Regions from separate parts of the Homo sapiens genome. Here region 1 is linked to region 2. Evidence: fine-mapped expression QTL. A gene starts in region 2. The other region holds a variant in brackets. All regions are shown on one strand. Distances are between the middles of the regions.

What was found. PIP is the estimated chance that this variant, and not a neighbour inherited with it, causes the effect.
Region 1: its variant is the best candidate, but not a certain one, in a credible set for the expression of REPS1 in esophagus mucosa (GTEx, PIP 0.56).

The regions. Positions count from the first base shown.
Region 1 is chr6:139,067,517-139,072,898 of GRCh38, forward strand. No RefSeq gene overlaps it. Among named protein-coding and RNA genes, the nearest start is that of ABRACL, 41 kb to the left of the region's middle. The variant A/C (reference allele first, on the strand shown) is at 2,948.
Region 2 is chr6:138,985,579-138,990,960 of GRCh38, forward strand. REPS1 (RALBP1 associated Eps domain containing 1) reads right to left here and starts at 2,675. Exons shown (of 20, transcript NM_001286611.2): 1 at 1,952-2,675. The coding sequence starts at 2,104. RefSeq lists silencers at 2,177-2,476, 2,667-2,906.

The DNA.
Region 1 (5,382 bases), 82 kb after region 2:
TATTGGATTGGAAGAAAAAGCTCTTTCTGAAGCAACTTGACTGGGCTCAGTTTTATACTATGCGTGCTGAGGAGCAAGGGCAGATGCCTCTATTCTCTTTATATGTTTGCCACCCTATGCCTGGAGGATTGTGCCCTGTTTTTGCAAGTGTGTTTCAATTAAGTGAATTATATGATAATTAAAAATAAATGCCCAATAAGCTAAGAAAATAGGTTCTCAAGTCTCCTCCTCCCCCTCCCCCTCCCCTTCCCCTCCCCCTCTCCTCCTCCTTCTCCTCCTGCTCCTCTTCCTCCTCCTTCTTCTTCTTCTTCAGACAGGGTCTTGCTCTGTCACCTGGGGAGTGTAGTGGTACAATCTCACCTCATTGCAAACTCCTAGACTCAAGCAATCCTCCCACCTCTGCCTCCCGAGTAGCTGGGAGCACAGGTGTGCACCATCACATCTGGCTAATTTTTGTATTTTTTCTAGAGATGGGGGTCTCACCATGTTGTCCAGGTTTGTCTCCAACTCCTGGGCTCAAGTAATCTGCCTGCCTTGGCCTCCAAAAGTGCTGGAATTACTGGCATGAGCCACTGTGCCTGACCCCATTTTTTTTTTTTTTTTTTGAGATGGACTCTCACTCTGTCATCCAGGCTGGAGTGTAGTGGCACGATCTCGGCTCGGTGCAACCTCCGCCTCCCAGGTTCAGGCAATTCTCCCGTCTCAGCCTCCCAAGTACCTGGGACTACAGGTGTGCACCACCACACCCAGCTAATTTTTGTAATTTTAGTAGAGATGGGGTTTCACTATATTGGTCAGGCTGGTCTCAAACTCCTGACCTTAGATGATCCATACGCCTTGGCCTCCCAAAGTGCTGAGAATACAGGTGTGAGCCACTGCGCCTGGCCTTTTTTTTTTTTTAATTGGTACATTATACCAGGGTTTTTGGACATTATAGAAAGGGCTTTTAAAAATAGTTAATAATCAATGGATATTATAGAAAAACAAAGACTGGCCAGATGTTTCAAACTCAGTGTTTATTTTAACACAATCAAACAAAAATCTGGGTATCATTATCCCTTCTCAACTCTGAGTACATAACCAACACATAAAGCATGATGGTATCTGTATTGTGATGGCTAAATGAACGACATTGTTAGTATACGATTATCATCCCCAAATGTTCATTAAATGCTGATATATTGGTGGAGCTGTGATCAGAGCCTACATAAAGCAAATTAATAAGCAGGTAACCACCCAGGCATCATTCACTACCCAACATTCACATCAATGTTAATAAGATATACAAAATAATGATGTTAGTCTAAGAGGCAATTTTTAGAAATTACTTGGCTGATTCTGTCATACCATTAGCATCTATGAAAATGATAATTTTGACATTAAAAGGGATAAAAAATGGAGGCCACAGTTTAGATATACCTCAAGGCCATCTATCCATACTCATGTAGCCAACACTTGAGTCATCCTGATTTTCCCAAATGCTAGCTCTATTTATAAATGAAACACAAAATATAAGCTTTACATCCTTGTCAACATGATTCAGTGAAATTAAACCAATTAGCTGTAGACAAACAAGCTCAAACAGCTCTGCTTGCCTTAAAAAGAATGTTAACGTCTAAAGGCCAGTCATGAAACAAGTCAAAATACTTGCTCCTTTAATGCTCTATAAACTGTTCCATAACTGCCGTGAACAGGACTTTTTACCATATTTTATTTGAGGTCTCCTTGTTCTCTAACTGTTCCTTTGTGCACCATGAATTTCTACAGTTAGTTTCTTTTATTTTTTTTCATCTGTTATGTTTATTATTCAACAAAGCAAATAAAGTCATGGCTTAAGGGGGAAAATATTTGAAGTAAACAGGACAATATTATTTGTGCAAGTTGCCTTATACAAGAAATTCCAAAAAAACAAACATCCAAAGTGAATGTGCACACTACACATGATTTCCAGTGAAACTGTGCCAGTGACACAAAATGTTCTGACAATAACTTATTGTCGATATGGGGGATAGTTGAATAGATATTTTCCCTAGGAACAATTTTAAAATTTGATCTGATTTTATTTTTAACACAGCAAAACAATTAAATCCATAACCAATTATGTCAGCTATAATGGGATGAATTCAAAGGGCATAGTTTGAATTTAAATTGGTATACATTAAGTGATATATTCATAAATTCATAAATTGATAAAATTTCATATATTTTAAGTGATATATATTAATAATTAAGTAATGTAATATAAAATTCTGGCCGGGTGGAGGTCCATTTTTCTCCTTAAAATAGGAGAATGACTTTTGGGAAGGTGGATGACAATGAAGAACCTTCCTAAACATGGCAGCCCGTTCTCAGGCAGATCAATTTCAAGTAAAACTATCTTTGCTCACGTGACCCTTGGAAAGTCTTCAGGTATCCCCAGGAGTACTCAAGTTTGGAGACCACTGCTATTAAGAACCAAATAAACGGCTGGGCGCGGTGGCTCATGCCTGTAATCCCAGCACTTTGGAAGACCCAGGCGGGCGGATCAGGAGATTGAGACCATCCTGGCTAACACGGTGAAACCCTGTCTCTACTAAAAATACAAAAAATTAGCCGGGTGTGGCGGCGGTCGCCTGTAGTCCCAGCTACTCAGGAGGCTGAGGCAGGAGAATGGTGTGAACCCGGGAGGCGGAGCTTGCAGTGAGCCGAGATCGGGCCACTGCACTCCAGCCTGGACGACTGAGCGAGACTCCGTCTCAAAAAAAAAAAAAAAAGGAACCAACCAACCAAACTTCCTTGACATCTAAACACACCAGGCACATACTCAGTAACAATTATTATTATGCTGAGAAAGGCCAGCTGTCATTTATAGGCAGAGATAGATAGATATAGAATATATAGAGATATAGAAATAGTTAACAATAATTTTTCTACACCCATATAGTAGATTGTGGCATTTTAAATTCCC[A/C]TGTCTCAGAAAGAATGCGATAATTAAATCATTTTACTAATCCCATAATTATCTTTATGTTTTTCAACAAGGAGGGAGTGAGTCTGGGAAAGGCTTCAAGAGTGATATAACTTGAGTGGCACACACCTGTAATCCCAATACTTTGGGAGGCCAAGGTGGGAGGACTGTTTGAGACCAGCCTGGGCAAAATAGGGAGACCATGTCTCTACAGAAATTTTTTAAAAAAAATTATTGGAGCATGGTTGCAGGTGCCTGCAATCCCAGCTACTTGGGAGGCTGAGGTGGAAGGATCACTTGAGCCTGGCAGGTCAAGGCTGCAGTGAGCTCTGATCATGCCACTTCACTATAGCCTGGGCAACAGAGTGAGACCTTGTCTCTAAAAAAAAGAGAAGAGTAGATGTTTGCCATGATGAAGTGAGGGATTAAGGTTATTTCAGGGCACAGAGGAGAGAGAGAAAGGGTCCAAAGACAAAGGACAACTTAGTGTAGCTCAGTTTGTCTGAAGTGAAGGATGGGAGAAATATGGTCAAAAATCAGTCTAGCAAGCCAAGGAAGAGTCAGAGCATATGCTAAGATCTAGTGTTTCTCTTGAAGAAGTTGGTGCTTCATGACACAGGCAACAAAAGCCGTTTAAAGCTTTGGCACAAGCTGAGACTCTAATAAGAAAACCTTGCCATCAGAAAAACGGGAAAACCAAAAAGCAAGGTCTCAAACTGAGGCAGTTAGCTACAGGGTTAGAGAAAGCGGGAATGACAGTAGGGATGTTAGGGATATAAAAGAATCAAGGTTTGGCTACTAGGTGGATGTGGGGAGTGAGAGAGAAGGAGCCATGGGGAATGGTCCAGGTTTCTCGGTTGGTTATGATGTCAGGATTGTGCTTGACTATCACAGTTGGCAACACAATCTACTGCTATTCTGCAGATTTGTGATGCCTCTCCTAGCTTTCTGCGCAACCTTCTTTAGAATGGCTTTTCGTCCTCGTGCTTGTCATCTTGTTAATGTAAGAAGCATGTGCTACTTTCAGCATCACATTGGTCCAAGCTGGATGAAGGGAAGGGTTGCAGGGCAAAAGGCAGAGACAGCCCTTTTAAAAAGAGCCTTCCTGGGCCAGGCACGGTGGCTCATGCCTGTAATCCCAGCATTTTGGGAGACTGAGGTGGGTGGGTCATCTGAGGTCAGGAGTTCGGGACCAGCCTGGCCAACATGGTGAAACCCCCCATCTCTACTAAAAATACAAAAATTAGCTGGGGATGGTGGTGCATGCCTGTGATTCCAGCTACTTGGGAGGCTGAGGCAGAAAAGTTGCTTGAACCCAGGAGGCGGAGGTTTCAGTGAGCTGAGATCACACCACTACACTTCAGCCTGGGCAACAGAGTGAGACTCCATCTCAAAAAAAAAAAAAAAAATAGAGCCTTCCTGGATGTCCCACCCATGTCATTATGATATGCAGTAGCCTGAGCAGTTTGTATAGCTACCCCTAGTTGCAAGGGAGGTTCTTTATTTTTTGGTTGTTGAATTATTTTATTTTTTATATGTGTCTTTGTTTACCTTATTATTTTTTAAAATAAAAAATTGCATATATTTCCAAGAAAGTTTTTAAGCGGAATAGATTGCTTCTCTGAACTAAAAGTGATTCTGTTAGTGAAGAATGGATACTGAGTGGCCAACAACAGCATTTCCCACAGATCATTGTGGAGATGCTAGTTTCATGCTCTGAGACAGGAAATATAGGATGAGTAGCAGGCCTCAGTGGAAAGACAATAAATTCAGTTATGGATGTGTTGTGTTTGAGGTTACTATGAGTTATCCAGCTGAGATATTCAGTTGAATAAGCACGACTAATGATAATCTGGGGGGGTTCTTGACCTATAGATGACAGTTGGCCCTTCTCAATAATAATTGTTATTGATTATGTGTTTGATTATTTTTAGGTATCAAAGCAGGTTGGTTATTTGGTTCTTAATAGCAGTGGCCTTCAAACTAGAATATTCCTGGAGTACCTGAAGACTTTCCAAGGGTCATGTGAGCACACACAGTTCTAAGGGAATCAATTTCTAGGTTCTCAAATTCCATACATACTCTTACTTGAAACTGATCTGCCTGAGAACCGGCTGCCATATTTAGGAAGGGTCTTCATTGTCACCCACTTCCACAGAACTCCTTCTCCCACTTTAGGGACCTCTACCAAGCCAGAATTTTATATTACATCACTTAACTATAGATTTGTTGTAAGAAATCACATTATTTTCTTGTTTTATAATTTATTATAAAAATGAAAAAATCCTATTACCTCTACATAATGACTTTATGACTTTTAGCAATCTACTTTATGAAATGTTCTTCATAATTTAATAAATTTAATTTATTAAATTTAAATTTAATGGTTTTTGCAATGTTCCTTAAAATCCATATCAACATATTTATTTGAATGGAAA
Region 2 (5,382 bases):
GTAAATTGCCTTCAAGATATCTAGACTGCTATTTAGTATACATAACTGTAAGAGTTCTGCTCCAGGGAGTTCCAACTTGTAACTGAACCCTGAATATTTAAGCTCTCTCTTTATGCCAAAAGACAATGGAAATTTATTTTTTGAATGTTAATAAAATTGAGCAAAACATAAAAATAACTTGCACTGAATTAAACATGTTTGAAGTAAAGATTCATTAATGCTAATGTGTCTGTCCTAAAAATTACATTTCAAGTTCTAAAGTCTTTGTGTACCCATTAAAAAGATTGAAAGTTTTATTTCAACTCTTTCTCACCTCAAAGACAAACTAAAATAGAACAGAGAAGGCTTTTCCTTAATTTTATTTAGATCCTAACTTGAAGGTATACTTTGTTATTTCTTCAAAAGGAGCAAAAAGAGTATGATTAATGAGCATGTTCTGACCAGATCTCTAAGTCCTACTCCAAAGCTGTAACAGGAGAGTACCATAGACCACACTACCAGCACCCTTCGTTAGCAGACCACAGGCTTTGTTTTGTATCTCCCTGAGCTAAGAATGGCTTTACATTTTTGTGTTTTGTAAACACAAGAAGAAGAATATGCAACAGAGAGCATATGTGGCCAGCAAAGCCCAAAATATTTACTATTTGTCCCTTTTCAACAGGATGAATTTGGGACTCCTCGTTGCCCTTCACTGGCACGTAAGACATCCCACCTTTAAAAAAGCAATGTAAAACACAAGACCATTTAAAAAGATCGAACTCGTTCAACTTAGTCATAGTTAATGCAGACTTAACTTCTAAAACAGAGACCTGTGTGTGGACATTTTTATTCTTCACAGAATTTTTGTTGGAAGAAACTTGCCTTCATTCTGTGGATGAACATACTTATGCTTGAAAATGGAAAGTGCCTGACCCAAAGTCACACTGCTGGTTAACAGCAGAGTAGGGTCAAGGACCCAGCCTTCAAAACCCTGGTCCAATGCTTTGCAGTCCACTACATACACCTATACATGTGGCTTTAAATTTTGGAGATGTGGATAACTAGCTTGGATCAATATAAAAGATGAAAGCTTAAAACCTGTTCCTAACATACTGTTTAGACAGACTCCTACTAGCAGCTATGAATCATTAAACAGAGTAGCATTAATGCTCACCACATACATTAGATAAGAACTTCTAGGAAGTCCTCTGTTTCAAAAGCAGATATGATAAAAAAAGGCTTTAAACCTACAGGGTTTGCTCCTCCAGGGCTTCAGATTAGGGCAAATAACGCACTTCTGCCTACCAGCTGTTCAATACTCATCTCCCAACCCAAATCCACAAGTTCCACAAATGCTTTCGAATGCCTGTTGAAAAACATTGTTCAGTCTCATCACATACACACGTTCTACAGATAATTACAACTTCTTGTATGCCTACTTGTAAAACTACTAAGTAGTTCACATTTTAAAAAATTTCCCTAAGAATTTTGCTTCCTTTAAAAAAACTGCTTCTTCGATTCCTAAATCTATAGAACTCACTTTATCACGTCTTCTCGGTTAATCCAAGAATTAAAAAAACCATTTTGCCCATACTGATAACTTTACTACTCTGCAGGATCCGAAAAGCTCTCTATATGCCAGGTTCTAGGATTCACACACATTAACAACCTAAGATCCTTCAAGTGAGATAGCTCTTGCAGTACAGAGCACAGATTCTCAGGGTCGTGGGGGATACCGGCTGAGGCTCTTCAGACCCCCACCACAGGAGTTCCGTCCTCTAAGGGCAACCCCCTCCCCCTTGGCCGCGGCGCGAGTCCAGGCCTCCCGGGCACCTGCGGCCCCTGCCCGCTGCGGGGACCCCCCGAGGAACCAGCCCCCCGCCGGGCCCCAAGGAATCGGCGCCCACTCCCACTCCTGGAGGCCAGTGACTGCAGGCCTAAGCCGCCCGCCGGCCCCGGGACGCGACGTTACCTGTAGGACCACGTCGTTCGGCAGCTGCGCGGCCCGGAACAGCTCCAGCACCCGCCCGTTGACCACCACCTTCTTGGTGCTCTCAATGTCGCAGTAGGAGAAGAGATCTGAATAGTATTTCTGCTCCGCATCGCTCAGCGTTAAGCCTTCCATCTTCGCCTCCGGCTCACGGCCGCCCCGCCCCGCATGCACTACTCGGGGCCCGGCCCCAGGAACCTGGGCCGGCAGGGGCTGCGCGTGGCCCGGCCTCCTGCTAGCTTCCCGAAAACGCCGGCCCCGGCCTCACACGCGCCAGGTGCGCCCGAGCAACAGGGCCCGGAGGTCGCGAGGAGGGGGCCCGGCTGCGCTCGCCGCGCCGCTGCCTGCGAGGCCCGGCGCGCGGCTGCGGCTGCGGCTGCGACTACGGCTCCGGCTCCGGCTCCGGCTCCGGCCGCGGGGAGGGTGCAGAGAAAGAGGCGGGGGCCGCGGAGGCGCGAGGCACTGGCGGACTCCGCCCCCGCCGCGGGTTCGAGTCTCCCCGGCTCCCTGCCGATTCCCCCAGACTTCCCGCCTCGGCTTCCCCTTCCGTCCACGCCTCCGGAGCGGCAGCGCTTCCCGGAAAGTTGTGGGGCTTCGAACCTAAAGTTTCGGGGGATCTGGGCTGAGCGTGGCCGCCGCTCCGCCTCCCTCCGCCGCCATTTACAGTGCCCCGGCCCGGCCCCGACGCGCCCGCACCAACAGTGACAGCGGCGGCCGCGCTCCAGACCCGGATGTGAGGCCGGGAGGAGAGAGCGCGAGAGGGAGAGAGAAACACCCACCGGGCTGGCTTGGCCGCTCCCGGGAGAGGGAGGAGGCCGCAGCGCCCCCTGGTGGCCGGCGCCCGGCGGCGGGATGACCGAGCCGCCCTCTGCGCGGAGATCTCAGCAGCAAGACCCCCGGAAAGGGGGGTGCAGTGGGAAACAGCCGGCAGCTCATTAAGACCGAGATAACTAAGATCCGGGTTGCAGTTTTTATGTTTCGCAGTTTCTGGTCCTAAGCGTCTGAATAATTGGATTGAAAGGGGAGCCTTGTTCAGGTTATTATCATTCTATCTGTACCTTTTCGGTACAGATGAAGATAAATGCAGTATTTCCATCTGTTCTGAAGGGCTATGAACATCCGGGCTATGAACATCCTGGCTATCCGGGAAGCCTCCACGTAGACACCAACATTGAGGCTTCATCTCACTCGTGCTTCAAGCCATGTTTACCTGAGAAACAAAATGTGCTGAATAGAGGGGAAAACTGGCAAAGTTGTCCTCTTTGTTCACCAGGTCATTCCGGTCACTGGGAACTTAATACTCTACATTTATACCTTCAACTCTATCAACTCATGTAGGCCCGGGGCTGCCCACAGGGGCTGCCTTCCGTATTTTCTCCTTTATGAAAATCATGGAGTGGCGCTCTTTTAATCTGCACCTGTCCCAGAGAGGGGATTCTTCAGCTATTTCAAGTAGAATATCTTAAGAATTTATACTTAGCAAATATAAAATACTTCAAAGACGGGAGCTAAGGCAGAATTACCCAGAGTTCTGGTTTTTATTTTGTCTTCTACAAGTTGTTTCCCAGAGTGCGGATCCTATAAATGACACATATGAGGAAATTATTACAGGTTCCCAGTCATTTATCTGTAATTGCAAAATTCAAAGCGCACTGAAAACCCAAAGACTTTTTTTTGTAACCCTTTGGAAGTAAAACCTGCCCTGCCTCATTTGGAGGCAAAATCTAAACTAAGCTTGCATGAAGCTATTTCTAGCCTTTATGGATCCCACTTAGTGTCAATATTTACTCATTTCACTCCAGGTCTTTGTAGAATGTTAATATGTACACAGTCACAGGCATTCTATTATCTTTCTATTTTTTAAGAAAGATAAGGGATTTTAGACCTGTCAATGTCTTCTGACTTGACTAGTAGTATTTGATAAAGGTAAGTATATACTATCCATTAAGCTTATTTCCCATCTCTAAGACTTTCAGTTTGCTACAGCAGCCCCTCATGTGTCCTTTCAGGGCACCTGCAGCAAGTGATCAGACCCCCCCCAGACAGCTGCCTTCCAAAGGTGTAAACAGAAAGAGCACAATGGGGTAGGGATTGGCTCACAATTGTCTTTGCATCTTTTTCTCTGCCACCTCTCCTAGGCCTTGCAGCTCTTGTCGGCCCCAGGGCCTTTGTTCCTGCCATCTAAAATAGTCCTTCCACAAACCATGGCATGGCGTATTCTCTCATATGGTTTCAGGTCCCTGCTCATATGTCACCTCCTCAGAGCAGCCTTCCTGCAACAGCTGCTGTAAAATAATCCCACCATGCACTATCCCCTTATCTGAATTCCTTTTTTTTCTCTTTTGAGACAGAGTCTCCCACTGTCACCCAGGCTGGAGTGCAGTGGCATAATCTTGGCTCACTGTAGCTTCGACCTCCCAGGCTCAGGTGATTCTCCCACCTCAGCCTCCCAGGTAGCTGGGACCACAGGCCCAGGCCACCATGCCCACCTAAATTTTGTGTATGTGGCTTTTGTAGAGACAGAGTTTTGCCATGTTACCCAGGCTGGTCTCAAACTCTTGGGCTCACCCACCTCAGCCTCCCAAAGCGCTGGGATTACAGGCATGAGCCACTGCACCCAACCTGAATTCTTTTTCTTTATAACACTTTTCACTATCTGACATTACATATATAGCTGTTACATTTTTAACGGCTAATTATTGAATAATTACTAAGTTTCAGGCATTGTTCTAAAGCTTTACACTAATAACCACATTATTCACAACAACCCTATTAAGTGGTACTACTAGGTTTTTTTTTTTTTTTGACAGATTAGGAAACTGAGGCAAAATGGGTTAAGTATTGTGTAAGTCATGTTGCTATTAAATACCCGGATCTGGGATTCAAACTCCAGGCTGTCTCAACTCTAAAAATCACTACCCTATCTTGCCTGTCTAATTTCTTTGTTAAGTTTGTTATTAAGAAAATATTTCTTCACCAGGCATGGTGGCTTATGCCTGTAATCCCAGCACTTTGGGAGGCTGAGGTGGGTGGATTGCTTGAGCTAAGGAGTTCAAGACCAGGCTGGGTAACACGGTGAAACACCATCTCCACCAAAAATACAAAAATAGCCAGGCATGATGGTGTGCACCTGTGGTCCCAACTACTCGGGAGGCTGAGGTGGGAGGATCACTGGAGCCCAGGAGATAGAGGCTGCAGCGAGCAGTGATTGTGCCACTGCACTCCAACCTGGGAGACAGGACGAGACTCTGTATCAAAAAAAAAAAAAAAAAGAAGAAGAAGAAGAAAGAGAGAGAGAAAGAAAGCAAGCAAGCAAGAAAAGAAGGAAAATATTTCTTCATTGCCACAGTGCCAAAGCCCAGTATGTGACACATAATGTGTATCAATAATAATTTGTTGAATGAATGAAAGCA